2 linked regions of the Homo sapiens genome follow. The protein of the gene in region 1 interacts with the protein of each later gene in a biochemical or structural test. Each region holds a gene or a part of one and is shown on either strand. Other genes may lie near its edges.

Evidence for each region.
Region 2: the proteins of DCAF10 (region 1) and OTUD1 form a complex in vitro, tested with the Homo sapiens proteins (one study listed by BioGRID).

The regions. Positions count from the first base shown.
Region 1 is NC_000009.12:37,852,192-37,860,812, reverse strand, and holds part of DCAF10 (DDB1- and CUL4-associated factor 10), read right to left. Parts: intron 6,034-8,621; coding exon 5,831-6,033; intron 3,573-5,830; coding exon 3,462-3,572; intron 766-3,461; coding exon 620-765; intron 186-619; coding exon of another isoform or gene 153-185; exon of another isoform or gene 13-152; intron 1-12. UniProt on the Homo sapiens protein: May function as a substrate receptor for CUL4-DDB1 E3 ubiquitin-protein ligase complex.
Region 2 is NC_000010.11:23,434,137-23,443,028, reverse strand, and holds OTUD1 (OTU domain-containing protein 1), read right to left. Parts: upstream 3,955-8,892; 5' UTR 3,572-3,954; coding exon 2,126-3,571; 3' UTR 652-2,125; downstream 1-651. UniProt on the Homo sapiens protein: Deubiquitinating enzyme that specifically hydrolyzes 'Lys-63'-linked polyubiquitin to monoubiquitin.

The sequences.
Region 1 (8,621 bases):
AGAGTATCTTACCTCTTCCCCTACACAATTCAAAGGCTCTTCTCTTCTCTCCTTTCAGTTGTGGCCTCTAGGACCAGTGAGATCCTTGGAAGACTCTTGCTTTCCAGAGTGATGAGAATCATAAAGTCATTTAACACCTTTCCCCCTAGTCATCAGTATAGTCCCTTCCTTTCCCAGAGTTTCCCCTGGTTTTTAAAAAAAGAAAATTATGATACTCAATTGGCTTAGTAAAATCTCACATTTAGCCAGCTTAGCTGAAACATTTCAGACCTATGTTTATTATACAAGGGGTTTTTGTTTGTTTGTTTGTTTGTTTGTTTAGGGTGAGATGAAAGAGGCAAGATTTAAGAAGCTGGGCAAAAACTGAGCTGATGCTGGCCTTTAAAGTACCTCCCACCTTGCTCAACCCCAGCAGGAGAGGAATAAGAAGAGTTTGGAAGGGATAATGATACCATATGAAGCAAGAGAGGACAGAAACAGGAGAGTCGAGAAGCAGGATCTCTAGCAGTATGCCCTTGAAGGCAGAGACTGCAGTCAGCGATCGGCCTAAGCTCTGCACACACGGCAATGGCAATTTGTCCAATGAGCCCTGTTGAAGGTGGAGTGCTGCTGCCTGTACCTCCTCATCATCACTGTTGCTTGAGCACCGAAGAAGAGTGGCCCAGCCTTTTGGGTGCAGCTGTAAGGACGTGATGCAGTTTCCGTGGTCACTCTCACCAAGAACTTCAGGGGTTACGACTTCAAGACTATTTCGTGGTGAAACTCCTGAGATATAAGAAAATGAGGATGTGGGATTTGTATTATCAAAAAACTAAGGCAGTTCATCAAAGCTTTTTATTTCTGGCAGCCACCTCCCATGCCGTCATTCCTTAGTCTGCCCCTTATGCTACCATATGTTAAAGAGCGTGGTACTCCCCAATGTATGGTGTGTGAGTTTTGGCGGGGTGAAGGTGTGGGGAAAGGGTATAAATAGAACAAAAGATCCAAGTTCCCACAGCAGTAATTGTCACTGACCTAAGGCTAAGGCATAGAAGCTGACTAGGGGTTCTTTTATTTGGATCTTACATCTCAGAAAGCTCTTTATTTAAGTAAGAACCAAAGTTATGTGACATGAAAGGACTCTAGAAAGGTAAAAGGTAACAATTCTCCTCTCATTGGTCCTGGTGCTTTCTGGTCCAGAGAAGGAAATACTTGGAAGCCATGAGGATTGCCTTTTAAGCAAATAAAAAGATCAGGACTTAAGCACCTGCAATAACAACACTATAAACAAAAAATAAAATGTTGGAGGTAAGAAAGGACACCTCACATAAAGGCATGTCAAAACAAGGGATGGGAGACATTGCCAATCATAGACTCTACTATGCCTCATCATTTCCTTCTACCTAACTCCCAATGAAAATGACTGCTGGAGTAAGGCACTGTTAATAATAGGAATATGTTATATCCTTCAGGTGCGTGAAAAACCACTTTCATAGACACTGTAAGGAAGCAACTTAGAAATTTAATAGCAAGAGAAATATTTCAACACTTCTCTGACTGTGGAAGGAGTTATTTTGAAGGTATTGAGCTCCCTCTGTCAGATCCTTTGTGAATTGCTTGTCAAGCAGATGTGTTACCTTCTTTCTAAAGATTCCCTTCAGATTACTACATCATTAACAGAAACCTGTGAAGCTCTAAATTACACTGCTATAACAAAACTATACTGAAATAACTATTTCACATATGATTGAACTTTAACAATTTTAGAGAAAAATATACTCTTATTTTAAGAATTAATTTGGAAAACCTATAACAAAACCAGACAAGAAATGCATTCTAAGTAGGTGGTTTGCTAACTGTGCTCCTTTGGGGTTCCTCAGGAGATGGCAAAAGTGGGGAACCACGTGTGGGCTGAGGTGTAGATGGAGTGGGGAAGGCTGGAGGGTCAAGAGCCTCCCTAATTTTTCTTGAACCAGAGCTACTTTGATTTTATTTGTGCTACATCTCTAAGAATCCACAGCAGATTTCATGTCAAAAATAGAGTTCTAATGCTGAAATGCATTTGAAAGCCTCTGCTCTATACAGCTATTATATCTGCCAAAGGATAGTGTTAACATACTCTGACATCTGAAGATCCAGGATTTCCAACATTTAGAGCAACTTCACCTATAAGCCCCACCTTCTCCCATGTTTTCCCTCTCTTTTCACCCTCTCATTTTCCTCTTCTTCCCAGCCTCCTCATATATCATCTCTTCCCTCATTCTTAACTCTCTGTGGCATAGAACTGCTGTATATTTGTGTTTGTGTGTTTACCACTGGTCAATAACAAGCAAGCATGTTAACTATTCTTCTTAAATTAAGTTTCTTTTTCTTGTGGATGGTGTAGTCAATCAATAAAGATTTTTCTCAATGATTATTAGAAGCCTTGACTTGTTTCCCATAGCACAAGTGGAAGGAGAACAGGAAGAATCTGCAAAAGATGTTTGTGTTACAAATCAAAGGAAAAATGTTATACTTCTGGGCATAAATCTTTAAATTTAAGAGGAGGAGCCTTTAACCTTAAAGTGAAATATCACAGACTTCAATATCCAGAGGCAAGTGGATAGGCCATATAGGTTAGAAAGAGCTCTTAAACCATTCTACTGACATAAGTAGCCATGCAAGATAACCAGCATCTACTAGGCAAAGCCACCCAGTGAAAACACAAATTAGAAGTCTAAGATTTAGTCTCTGCCCAAAATAACAAGGTAGAGAAATGTCTATCTCCAAAAGTGACCCAAAATGACAAAAAAAAAAGCAAGCCATCTCTGGCTCTTAATACTCAGTTCACAAAGAGAAGAATAAACAATGAATGGTATAAGAGCTTAGACGTCAGTTAGTATGAAGAGGAACAGTATGTGGAATTTGTATAGGCAGAAACCATTTCAACTGGGGGGGTGTGGTGGAAGGTATAGGGCAGAGCAACTAGTTCTGCCAGAATGGCTAGGAAAAAACTGGGAAATACAGAGAGGAGCCAGATGGTAGCTCACTTTATCCTACAAACCCTTGGAAGCTGTCAGGCATTGCACAGACAAGGAAATGGCAGAGCAAAAAGTCTGAGGGTAACCAGGTGACTTTCACAATTACCTGAAAATTCATGACTTATATTTATACAGAGCTTTCACGTGCATAATCTCACTTAATTTTCACAACAATCTTGATTGAAATCTATATTTCTGAACTACTTCCTCTCCAAACTAGACCAAACTAAGTCCAGCTAATAAAACCAAAGCTCAAGTTCTATTAAGATTTAACTCAAGATATTCAACCCCAGGGACTCTCGGTTAGCTTTTTGAAGATGATGACTGAGGGATAAATCACCTCATCTCCATTGCTTTTATTTTTATGGATTAAAACCATAAAACTGGTTTTAATCAATCAATAATTAATCAGATTGGCATAATCTGTTGTTACAAGATTATAAAATCCAACTTTTAACCTACCTTCTCTTTGAGAGGCTCGTGACATGTGTTTCTCAGAAGAATTAGAATCACTATGATGACAAGGTGAGCCAGAAACTCTAGGACCAGATGAACTTGATGAAGTGGTCAAATCTTAAAAATATAAAAAATTCTGACAATAAACCTAGCATAACTCTGGTAGTGGCTCTTAACTTTTTAATTATCTACTCGAACCATAGTTTTAAAATTTTGAAAAAATGCTCATATATCACTGGCCTATAAGACTGAGGAAGGCAAGACAGCTCTTTGAAGTGTTCTAAGATCTAGTCCCTTTCTGAATCTTTTATATCAAAGACTTGACTATGTGAAATAAAAATGAAAAACCAAATAATCATAGGAGCGTCTTTGGATCCTCATGATTTCTGTACTAAAATGGAACCCAAAAATTCCATGAAAATGAAAACTAAGCTCTTAAGCCTATTGTTTTATGTTAAAATAGGGTCCAAACAACAGGCCCATTACCAGAAACATGAAGAGATTCTTCTTTAAAGTATACCAAAAACTTCCATTATCATTCTTGAAATTACGTGAATAGTCTTTTTTTTTGAGACAAGGATCTTGCTATGTTGCCCAGGCTGGACTCCTAATTCCTGGGTTCAAGTGATCCTCCTGCCTCAGCCTCAGCCTCCTGAGTAGCTGGGCCTAAAGGCATGCACCACTGTGCCAAGTTTATGTGAATACTGTGAAATGTGACATAAAGTTTACATTGAAAAAAATAAAATGAGTATCAGGTAGTGGAGTCTGATATATTACTCCAAATAGCAGTGTCTATTTCATCATCACATTTTGCTAGTGGTCCCATACCTATGTTAAGAATTCTTACTAGTCTAATTTCCTGTAATGTTATTTAGTATCAGAATTACCATTAGAAAACTGAAAACCTTGTTGGTTTTTGAGTTGAAATAGGCCAACTAGACATTCAAAATCACTATTTCTCACTAAGTTAGAGTTGCTTATCATGTTTAACTTAAAAGGCAAATTTGAATCTCAAAGGATTATACTCGTATATTTATGAAATCCCTTGTTTGCAAGTAAGTTGGTAAAACTTAAATTTCTACTTTTGACAGTTATGCCAGGCACTGCAGTACAATGATGTCTGTACTTTCCCAAAGGAATTTTCAGAAGTGGTCCTGTGCACAAGGAGAAAGATTCCAACCTTTTTTTTCATTTCCTTTTTTTTGGACACAGGGTCTTTCTCTGTTGCCCAGGGTGGAGGGCAGTGGGGCACAATCATGGCTCACTGCTGCCTCAACCTGCCAGGCTCAGGTGATCCTCCTGCCCCAGCTTCCTGAGTAGATGGGACTACAGATGCATGCTAGCATATCTGGCTAATTTTTGTGTTTTTCGTAGAGACAGGGTTTCACCATGTTGCCCAGGCTGGTCACAAACTCCTGGGCTCAAGCGATCTGCTCACCTCAGTCTCTCAAAGTGCTAGGATTACAAACGTGAGCCACTGCACCTGGCTAAATTTTTAAGTTATTTGTAGAGATGAGGTCTTCCTATGTTGCCCAGGCTACCCTTGAGTTCAACTCCTGGGCTCAAGCGATCCTCCCACCTTGGCCTCCCAAAGTGATGGGATTACAGGTGTGAGCCCCCGCACCTGGCCCCAACCATTCAAAGCTGCCTTTTAATAGCAATTTATTAGCATTCTATGTTCCAAATGCTTAAGTCTTTTTTCCCCTGGATTTTTGTTTATAATGTAAATGATGGGTATGTCCCCACACCAGTCCCCTCTTTCCCAAAGGTAGATGAAATATAGTCTTTTTTAAATCACATAATGTTGATAAAATACAATACGTACATTTTTCTGAACCCTAAATTCTCTTAAGTCTAACAAAATCAGCAATGGGAGAAGAGACAGAGTTTTAGCAAAAGAGCGTTTAGAGAGTAATGAGATAAGATGGCACCAGCTACCTGTGTCTGGACATCTGTAAGTCTAGGATACAGATAAAACTAAAACTCTATATTGACCATAATTTAATAAAAGCTCTGCTTGATTCCAGAAGGACTTAAGACCTTGTGCCATCACTAATTTTTGAGATAGTGATGATTCAAAATTACTGATGAAAAGATCCTGTGGCTAGCATAAAGCTAAAAGAAAATACTTTAGGGTCAGCAGTTATTCCTCCTAGTCCATTTGTGATTCAGAGGTACATATGAATGATATGTCAGAGATACATACAAATCATTATACTTGCTTAGATAAAAACCCATCAATGAGCTTTCTAAAGAATGCCTTTTAAAAAACTGTCTTCCCTTTTCCTGCTATCATTTTCAGAAAAGAAACCTATACCATCTCTATGTTTGAGATTCTCGAGAAAAATCTTTTTGACCAAAAAAGAAAAGCTTACCTGAACTTGAAGTAGTTCTTCTTGCTCTTAAAATGGGATAGCTGCCTACTTCTAAAGACTTAGTTAAGTCAAGGTCATGCAAAATTAAGAGATATCCAGAGGACGTTGAAATCAACATTTTGGAACAATCTGGTGTTAACCTCATTCGCATGAGAAAACGTGTGTGAAAGAATTTCTTATGTGGACACCCATCTTCTGTATACCTACAGGAGAAACCAAGCCAACAAAATCTAGAGTTATCATAAATATAACGGTTCAGTAATAATCATATTTTTTGCCCTTCAAAATAAAATGTAGGGAGGATGAGAAGAGCTTGGTCAATGGGCTCAAAATTACAATTAGGAGGAATAAGTTCTAGGGTATTAATATTGCACAGTAGGGTGATGACGGTTAATAGTAAGATACAGTATATTATAAAATAGCTAGAAGAGCGACTGTTACATGTCCTTACCACAAAGGAATGATAAGTGCATGCTAATACTGATTTGCTCATTATACAACATATATGTGTCAAGACATCAAATTGTACCCTGTAAATATGTGCAGTTACAATGTGTCAATTAAAAAATATTTGAGGCCAGGCATGGTGGCTCATGCCTGTAACCCCAGCACTTTGAGAGACCAAGGCAGGAGGATTGCTTGAGCCTAGGAGTTCAAGACCATCCTGGGCAAGATGGTGACCCCATCTCTACAAAAATTTAAAAAATTAAAATAAATTAGCTGAGTGTGGTGGTGTGCACTCATAGTTCCAACTACTCAGGAGGCTGAGGTGGGAGGATCACGCGAGCCTGGGAGTTTGAGGCTGCAGTGAGCTATGATCACACGACTGCACTCCAGCCTGGGTGACAGACAGACAGACCCTGTCTCTATTCAAAAAAAAAAAAATTGAAACTTCAAAAATGAGATGTCTTTCCAATAAATTTTACTTTTTATGTTAATAATTATTATTTAAAATAATACATGTTGTTTTAATCAATTGTGGACTAATAATATTGTAATGATCATTAAATCCAGAAGAAATGTAACACTAATAGCCCTGTGGTCACAGAAAACAATTTTTAAAATTAATGTCAGTTTACGTGCATATTTTTGATGCCAATAAGAATGATCAGTAGGCTAGGGGTGGTGGCTCACACCTGTAATCCCAACACTTTGGGAGGCTGAGGCGTGAGGACAGATGGAGCCCAGGATTTCAAGACCAACCAGGGCAACATAGCAAGACCCTGTCTCTACAAAAAATAAAAAGTTAGCTGGAGACTGAGGTGCGAGGATGGTTTGAGCCTGGGATGTGGACGGTGCAGTGAGCCATGATTGCGCCACTGCACACCAGCCTGAGCATATAACAGGATATAATTCTATGAGAAAATATAATGAAAATGAGTACCAGAAGAAAAAGTTGTAAAACTTCCAGCTGTTAAAAAAAATAGAATTTACAGTCAATGTATATTGAGATTTACATACATGCTTAACAATCTTTTTGCTCATCATTCCTTCGTTCATCTCCAAAATTCCTTTTTTGATCCTTTCTTTCTGAAGTATATCCCTCAGAATTTTTTTTTTTTTTTTTTTGAGATGGAGTTTTGCTCTTGTCGCCCAGGCTGGAGTGCAATGGTACTGTCTCAGCTCGCTGCAACCTCTGCCTCTCGGGTTCAAGCGATTCTCCTGCCTCAGCCTCCCAAGTAGCTGGGATTACAGGCACGCACCACCACACCCATGCCTGGGATTACAGGCATGAACCACCATGCCCGGCCAGAATTTTTTAAAGTTAGACTTTGTTGAGGTAAATGCTCTCGCTTTTTATTGTTCTGAAAATCTTTTTTTTTTTTTTTTGAGACGGAGTTTCACTCTTGTTGCCCAGGCTAGAGTGCAATGGCGCGATCTTGGCTTACTGTGAACTCCGCCTCCTGGGTTTAAGCGATTCTCCTGCCTCAGCCTTTAAAAAAAATAAAATTTTTTAATGGTGTACATGATGTTTCAAATATGTATATATTGTGGAATAGCTAAATCAAGCTAATTTATATATATATATATATATATATATATATATATATAACCTCACATACTTAACATTTATGATGATAACACTTAAAATCTACTTTTAACAAATTTCAATTATATATAATAACAACAGTAAATTGTCATTAACAGTGGTCATCATGTTGTACAATATACATCTCCCAAGTAGCTGGGATTACAGGCACCTGCCACCACATCCAGCTAATTTTTCACATTTTTAGTAGAGACGGGGTTTCACCATGTTGGCCAGGCTGGTCTCAAAATCCTGACCTCTGGTGATCCACCGCCTTGGCCTACAAAAGTGCTGGGATTATAGGCGTGAGCCACCATGCCCAGCCTGTTCTGAAAATCTTTATTTCACTCTTTTAAGAGACTGGGTCTCCCTCTGTTGCCCAGGCTGGGGTGCAGTGGCATAATCATAGCTCACTATAACCTCAAATTCCCAGGCTCAAGGAATCTTCCCACTTCAGCCTTCCGAGTAGCTGGAACTACAGGTGTGCACCACCACTCCTGGCTAATTTTTAAATTTTCTGTAGAGATGGGGTCTTGCTGTGTTGCCCAGGCTAGTCTTGGAACTCCTGGTCTCAAGTGATCCTCCCACTTCAGCCTCTCAAAGTGCTGAGATTATAAGTATGAGCCACTATGCCCAGCTCAACTCATCTTATTGAATAAAGGTTTAGCTTAGCATATAATTTTAGGTCGTTGTTTCCTTCTGAATATTTAGGATAATTTTCCACAGAGTTCTATTTTCCATTGTTACTATTTGTGAGTCTGC
Region 2 (8,892 bases), on another chromosome or scaffold:
AACATTATGCACACAGGTGCACCAACTTAGTCCATTTGTGCTACTGCAACAAAATACCTATAATTTATAAAGAACAGAAATTTGTATTTCTCACAGTCTGTTGGCTGGGAAGCCCAAGATCAAGGTGCTCGCAGGTTCCACATCAGGCGGAGGCCCCTTCCTCACAGATGACACCATCTAGGTGTCCTCCTGTGGCAGAACAACAGAACAGCAAAATGGGCCTAAGCTAGTTGCTTCCAGACCTTTTTATAAAAGGCAACTAATTCATTCATGAAGACAGAGCGCTCATGCCTTAAATCACTTCCCCAAAAGCCCAACCTCTTAATACCACCATAATGGGGACGAACACATGAATTTGGGGTGGTGGGACACATATATTCAAACTATAGCATGCACTTTTCAACATCTTAAAACAGATTCCCGTGGTCTCAAGAGGCCAGACTAGACAAAAATTAGGGCATCTCTTTGGTTACTCTCTAAAACGTTAAACTCTATACTGAGAGTGAGTGGAATACAAAAGTATGACATTTAATTAGACATTCTGCTGGCTGACACAAAACTTGCACTTCCTTTTTCATTAGCCAATAGGTACAGCTATAACTGTAGACAGAAATTATAATTAGAAATAATGAGAGCAATTTCTTGGATTACTCCACTTTTAAATTATATTTTATTCAGACTTATCCTTTGAAATTACTCATGATTAGCCTATCCTCTTCATGTGATAATTTAGGAAACCTCTCTATTGCTGTGGCATCTTTATGGAAAAAAAAAATTGTGTACATGCATACATGCAAGAAAGTTTCCTACAAACATCACAATTTAAAAACCACTCTATCCAAAAAGGCATTGTAAAAGTATAATTTTGCATTTTATTCATTCATTCCATCAGCTGGGAATTGCTCTATTGTACAAATACAGTTTTGTACAAAAAAATCACAAAATGTTACAAAATAAAAAAAGTACAAACTGCATTACTTAATAAATATGACTAAAAGTAGTTAAAGTGGCAATGAGATTGATTTTAAGTTGGAAACATTGTTTGACCCAGCAAACCATACAAGCTCTGTTTACAGACATTTCTACATCAATACAGGGCAATCCTATTTTGCCTTTTGAAAGAATGTAAAGAAATATTAAGACAGTGTTCTCCTGCTATAACTGCCAAGGTTGGCTCCAGACATTTATGCCATTAGTTTATAAATCTCTTAGCTGGATTCAAGAAGTTATATAAAGCAGGAGGCTTATCTTGTCACAGAGTTTTATACCATGTTAACATTCTCTTACAACAACGTGACAAATGTAAATAAAAACAACTGAGAGCACCAGACAATCTACTCTACACATCAACCAGGGTACAGAATAATCATTCTGCCATCAGCAAATATCAGACTTTCATTCAAGTAAGACCTGCTACTATCCCTTAAAAGAGGAAAAACAAAACAAAAACCAAAAAAAAAACACAAAAAAACACCTTCCCACAACCTTCCATTAAGTAATTTTCTTTAAAAGATTCGCCATTTCTAGAAAAATAATGACTTCCAAAACAACAGCTCTGTTTCATCAAAATGGAATGGGCCAAACATCTGGTAACAAGAATGCATCAATATCCATTTGAAATAATTATCTAAGAATTGTGAAATTCAAATTTCAACAACATAAAATAACTACCAAATCACAAACTCTGTTCAAAATAATACATTTCATATAAAGCACTTCTCTGGATTTACGCCTGAAAGCTGTTTGTCAAAATGGAACACGTCATAGATGAAGGTACACCAGTTTTTAAAAATGTTGTGCAAAAATACATTTTTATAGAAAATAGACTACCAGGAATGAACAAATTTACACTGTGAGAAATCAGCTTGCAAATTAAGTAATGCTCACTTTATACAGCAAATTATAAATAGCAGTAAAATCACCCAAAGCTATCATGAAACATCATTTAGGTGCCCAGCAACCTCCAGCTCTGAGAAAACATTCAAAAAGATGATTAAGGCATTACACCTACAGTAAAATCTACTAGCAAGTTTGAAAGTGCTATTACCCTGATTAAAGTTCATGTGATTCTCCAAACACAAGTTATATATGCAATTATTCCCAGGGTGTAAGGTTTTGAGACATTTCAAGAGCATGCATTTTGTTCAATATACATTTTAGACAAGGATATGGCCATAGATTTGGCAAGTTCTTCGTCGCGTTTCCTTTGCACTTGAGTTTGTTTGCACCAGTTGTCGTACTCTGGGTTAGGATAGGAGTGATCAAATACAGCATCATAGTGTCCGTTACTGAGCCAACTGAGCCAAATACTAGGCCTCAGGGAATCCTCTGGGCCCAAATAATGAATCATGGTAGACACCGTGGGACTCTCCAGCCTCCCTCCAGTAGTTAAATGGATATTCACATTCAGCATCTGCCCCATGGCCAGCAACTCCGGGTACCCGGCCCATGCCCCGTCTTGGGCAGCAGCGATGATAAACTCCCCCACGTCGCCCTCAATCAGGGGGCTGAAGTGGTCGAGATGGTCGGCGATGTAGTGCACCGTCTGCTCCCTCAACTCCCGGTGCAGGCTCTGGTCCCCATACACCGTCTTGCTGACAGCTCGGTAGAGGCAGTTGCCGTCTGGAATGATGTGGAATCGGTACTTATTCCTCTGCCGCAGATACTTGTCCTGCTTCTCCACCTCGGCCAGGTATAGGGCCAGCTTCTCGTCTCTGGGATCCGACCTGGAGACGATCACCGGCTCCGCCGCACTACTCGGGGCGGCCTCGATGCTCCCGGCGGGGGGTGCCTCGGCCTCTGGGTCGGGCCTCCGCGCCGCGTCCCCACCGGGCGCGTCGCAGCGATCGCCGCCCCTCTCCCAGCCCCTGGGGCCCCTCTCCGCCAAGTGCTCTTCGCCCCACGGACCGGGGCCGGGATCGGGGCTCCCCGGGGTCGCCGCGGGGCCTCGGTGCTTGGCGGCGGCCAGGGCCTGGCGGTGCTCGCTCAGTCGGAAGTTCCGATCGGGCCCCTCCCGTGTCGCGTCCAAGCCCGCGGGCTCGGGGCAGTCGGGCCGCAGCAGCTCCTCCAGGAGCCAGGCCGAGGAGCCCCGCCGCGGCGGGACCGGGGCTGCGGGCGCCGGGGCGAGCAGGAGGCAGCGGCCGCGCGGGGCAGCGGCGGAGCCCGCGGCGCCGGGAACGGGATCGGGCCCGTGCAGCAGGAGCCTGTCGGCGCCCAGGGCCCGCACGGTGATCTGTGCGGTGGACGTGTAGTGCGGCGGCAGCGGCGGCTTGCAGGACGCGCCGGGCGGGCCGGCGGCGGCGGAGGCGGGCGCGGCGGCCCCGGACACCACCTCGAAGCAGGAGGAGAAGGCGGGCATCTTGGCGGCGGGGACAGCGGCGGCTTCCCGGTGCTCGGCGGCCGCGGCGGGCTGGCACTCACCGGTCTCGGGCTCGGGCGCGGCGCCGGCGGCTCCCGGGGGCTGCAGCGAGACCTTGAAGGGGGTAGCGGCGGCGGGTGGCGCGGGGGCGGCGGCCGTGGGACCCGGGGCCCCGGCGGGGTAGTGGGTGCAGACGCTGCTGTAGAGCTGCATGTCCCTGCCCGCCGCTCGGCCCCTTATAGGCGCGGCGAGCCCCGGAGCGGGGGACACACCCTCCGGGCCCGGGGGAGGGGGCCGGCGGAGCGCGGTGACCCAACGGCCCCAGAATAGAGATGAGCGAAAGGCAGCCGGCCGCCGCGAGTCAGCAGCCGCGAATAGCGCCCGGGTCCCGGCCAAATTCCTGCTGCGCCACAGCGCAGGGGGGCGGGGACGGGACGCGAGCTCGACCCCTGCCGGTGCGCTCGGCCCGCAGACCCGGGGCGCCGCGCCCGCTGCAGCTGCTTCGGCCCGCGGCGGCCGCTGGGGACTCACGGAGGAAGCCGCCCGCCCCGTTGGAGCGCGTCCCGCCGGCGAGGAGGAGCGCGGTGCGCGCGGAGGCCCGGGAGGCGGGGCCGCGGTTGTTTACCTCAGGCCTCGCGGCCGCGTCACGTGGACTCACTGGAATGCGCGGCTCTTTGCGGCGCCCGATTCAGTCGCGCCTGCTCGCCCCGCCCACTCCGGCCCGCGCCCCGCCCCCTACCGCGCTCCGCCGACGTCACGGGCGTGGCCCTCGGCGCGCGAGCGCGCGCGGGCGGGGCGAGGCCGGGGGCGCGGAGGCCTGAGCAGTCCTGGGATCCTGGCTGGGCCTCCCGCCCACGTGACTCCCACGGACCGCTTCCCCCACCTGGGCACTGGGCACTGGTTTCTGCGCTGCGCCACTCTCCTCAGCGGCTGCAGTGGATGCTGCGGGATGGGAGCTGCTTGGGGCGAGTTAGCATGCTCGGAAAGCTTGCGTGGCAGGAAAGCTTCCGGCATGGGTGTGGAGAACGGAATGCTGCCTTAAAGTCTGTTTGGCCTCTGCTGGTCATGGGCTACCATCCCTGCTTGCATTCACTACTGCCTCTTTTCTTTTATCTTTTTAGAGATGGGGGTCTTACCTGTCTCCGAAGCTAGAGTGTAGTGGCGCAGTCCATAGCTCACTGCAGCCTTGACTTCCCGGGCTCAAGCGATCCTCCCGCCTCAACCTCCAGAGTAACTGGAAACCACAGGTGTGCACCACCGCACCCGGCTAATTTTCTTTCTTTCTTTCTTTCTTTTTTTTTAAGGCGAGGGTCTCACCACAGTTGCCCAGTCTGGTGTCGAACTACTGGCCTCAAGCTGTTTCCCGCCTCGACCTCCTAAAGTGTTGGGATTATGGGTCCTAGCCACCACTCGTGGAACCGCCGCGTCTTTTCCTTTTTTTTTTTTTCTTTTTCTTTTTGAGGCAAGGTCTTGCTCTGCCTTCCAGGCTGAGTGCAGTGGCGCCATCATGTCCCACTGCGACCTCGACCTCCAGGGCCCAAGTGATCCCCCTTCCTCAGCCTTGCCTTGGGCAGGGATTACAGGTGCCCAGCTAGTTTTACCACTGTGTCTTTTCTATGCATTTCCTTGGACTCACCGGTAAGGGTGAGTCCGCTAGTGGATTCTCTTGCCTTGCTAAGACAAAACCAACTTTGCACCTCTGACCTATGCCATTTGGCAAATATCTGGCTTGGGGGAAAGCAAGGAAGCCTTTTAGGCTTTTATAAACAAGCTTTCTCAGAATACCAAATGCAGTATCACTTAGGGCCCTTTGAGAATAGGTGTGAATGCTAGCCAGAGGTCAAAAGCGGTGGAGAAAGTCGTGACCTGCATTCCGGGGCAAGATAGACTATAGAAAATACTTCTACCGAGTCTTTTTGTAATACCCGCCTTTGTAAGGGAAAGCCAGAGGTAGTGGGAGACTTTTGCTATATTCTGAGCTGTGATCAAATGCTAAATTAACAGGGCCTAAACATTCGAATTGAACCCAGAGGTTGTCCTAACATTTTAGAGATAGGGAGACTGAACCTGTAGGTGATGTAGGCTGTACTCCGGTCCCCACCTTTCCGGTGGAATGTGAATTCCAGGAATTGAGAGACTTGGGTCTTGCTCTTATATTTCCATCCCCTAACACCGTGCTTGGCACATAATTGGACCTAATTAATATTTACTAAGTGAATGAGTAGATGGAAAGCGAGTTTCCAAGGTTTGTCAGACAGTGGTGAAGCCAAGATTACTATCCAGGTCCCTTGACCCTAGCCAGGGCTTTTAATTATCTTTGGGCAGTATGACTGGCAGGGTCCCAGCTCAGGTCACTCCAGCCGCTTATGTAAATTAACTCAGAAGAAGGTAAATGACTGTCTAACTTTTCAAATTCTGGTAACTACCCCATTGGGAGCTTGAAGCTCTCATGGCTAATTAGAAAAAGGAAATTACCATCCTTGGATTTCATCACTGATTTGTTGAGCATCTGTTGCTCTGTGCATGAAGCACTTCACGCTTAACTCTTTCATTAGCTGGTGTTCTGAAACAGAAGACAAGACTGTTAACAAGGCCGTCACCAAATAATATTTACCATACCCACCACGTGCCTGGCAGGACTAGCATAACTGGAGCCTGAAGGGAGATAAGGAAAATATTAGAATTTAAACCCTAAAGCAAGAGTAGATATTAACAGGTTGGGGTAAATGCAGAAAACAGCAACAACAACAACAAAACACTAGGTCCACAGAAGACACACTACCTCTGATGTACCAAGTTAGCAGCAGACAAAAACAAAGAGGTGAAGATTTGAAACATTAACATATGAATGCATTTTTAAAAATCTTTTTAGTTTGTCTGGGGGCAGTGGACTATGCAAGACTGTGTATTGGCAGTAGGAATCCTTGTCCACTCTGTATCTCAATGTGGAAAGGCTTCCTGGAGGAGGTGGTACTTCAGGAAACCTTCAAAGCAGAAATGATAGCAGCTTTGGAACTGGATGTTGTTTTTGGCCCTTGGAAGCTAAGAGAAGACAAGGCCTTGCAGGTGACAGCAAAGAGATTAGGGAGGCAAATCTGATTTCTCGTGAGTTCAAATAATTATCTATAATGTAATTATGTAATTAAAATTAATATGCATGAAAATTGCTACATGATCAGAACGATTGAAGAGTATAAGTTTTCAGGAAGTGAGTTGTTTTTATTCTGATGGTTTCCGTGACTGTTTTCCCTTCCTCAACTGTAAGCTCCTCAGAAGGATCCCAAAACTTAGCATAGAATAACTTGTAACGTTTTTGCTATATACTGTATATTAAAACATGGGAAGACTATAAATGTGATTTTTTAAAAAAAACTGTGCAAAGAAGCTGAATCCTGTGTCTTTAGATAAACATTAAATACATCCAATTAAGCTAGAAAAAACAATTCCTAGGCTAGGAGCCATGGCTCATGCATATAATCCCAGTACTTTGGGAAGCTGAGGCAGGAGGATCACTTGACCCCTGGAGTTTAAGAGCAGCCGAGGCAACATAGCAAGACCCTGTCTCTACAAAAAATAAAAAATAAAAGAATTAGCCTGGCATGGTGGCACATGCCTGTAGTCCCAGCTTCCTGGAAGGCTGAGGGGGAATAATTGCTTGAGCTCAAGAGTTTGAGGTTGCAGAGAGCCATGACCACACAATTGCACTTTAGCCTGGGTGACAGAATGAGGCCCTGTATCAAGGGAAAAAAAAGAAAAGACAGACAGACAGTAGCAAGTGTTGGAGAAAATGTGAAGTTAAAATCTTCATACGTTGCCTGTGAGATTGTAAAATGACGCAGATACTTTTTAAACAGCTTAGCAGTTCCTCAAAATGTTACACATAGAGTTAACCATATGATCCAGTAATTCCACTTCTAGGTATATAACCAAGAAAAATAAGAACATATCTCCATACAAAAACTTGTATATCAATATTCATAGTAGTAGTATTCATAATATCCAAAGAGTAAAAACTACCCACATATCCATCAAATGATGAATGGATAAACCAAGTGTGATACATTCAGACAATGGAATATTATTCAGCCATGAACAAAATGAAGACACATGCTACAATATGGATGAATCTTCAAAACAGGCTAAGTGAAGAAAGCCAGATGCAAAAGGTCACATACTGTATAATTCCAGTTATATGAAATGTCTAGAATAGAGAATAGGCTGAGGTGAGGAGGGAATGTGGAGTGACTGCCAAAGGGCGTGGGTTTCTTTTGGAGTGATCAAAATGGTTTGAAAATAGCTTATGGCTGTTCGAGGGGCTCATGCTTATAATCCCAGCACTTTGGAAGGCCAGGGTGGGTAGATCACTTGAGTGCAGTAGTTTGAGACCAGCCTGGGGAACATGGCAAAACCCCATCCCTACAAAAAATACAAAAGTTAGCCAGGCATTGTGGCACACACCTGTAATCCCAGATGCTTGGGAGGCTGAGTTGGGAGGATCCACTGATGCTGGGAGTTTGAGGCTGCAGTGAGCTGTGATTGTGCCACTGCACTCCAGCCTGGGTGACAGAGGAGACCCTATCTCAACAAAAAAAGAGAGAAAGAAAGAAAAAAGAAAATGGGTTATGGCAGGGCAAGGTGGTTTATGCTTGTAATCCCAGCACTTTGGGAGGCTGAGGCAGGAGAATCACTTGAGCCCAGGAGTTTGAGACCAGCCTGGGCAACATTCAAGACTCCATCTCTACCAGTAATAATAATAATAATAATAATAATCAGCTGAGTGTGGTAGTGTGCACTTGTAGTCCCAACTATTCAAGAGGCTGAGGCTGGAGGACCACTTGAGCCCAGGACTTTGAGACTTTGAGATCGCAGTCAGCTATGATCCTGCCACTGCCTTCCAGCCCAGGTGACAGAGCAACCCCTTGTCTCCAAAACAAACAAACAAACAAACAAACAAAAAGTTGCTAGTTGCACAACTCTGTGAATATACTAAAAACTACTGAATTATACATGTGAAGGATGAATGAATTCTATGGTATGTAAATCATATCTAAATAAAAGCTGTTTTTAAAAACCTTACCATGAGCCAGGTACTATGCTCATTGCTTGAGATAAAAAGATAATTATATTTTAACCATAAATGTCTCAGCAGCAACAATACTTATTTTGTGACATTATTGCATATATCATGGACAACATTTTATATATCTTAAAGATTTTTTCTGACAAATTCACAGTACTCTATATGATAGCTTAAATGTAATTGTTTAAATGATATAAGTGAGCTGAAGCTTACTGAAGCCAAATCATTCATGCCCAGATAAAACGGATATTTAGGGCACTAGACTAGTAGAAATGCTATTTGAATTTATAATTTTTTTATAAACTTTTTGTGTAATCTTCATGATATAAAAAATACTTTTACATTTTGTAAAGTAAACATTTGTTGAGCATTCCATGAAGCATATGGGAATTGTACACAGATATGTCATATTTTTAGTTTCGTTGGTTCTATGTGTGGTTCTCTGAGATTCTGA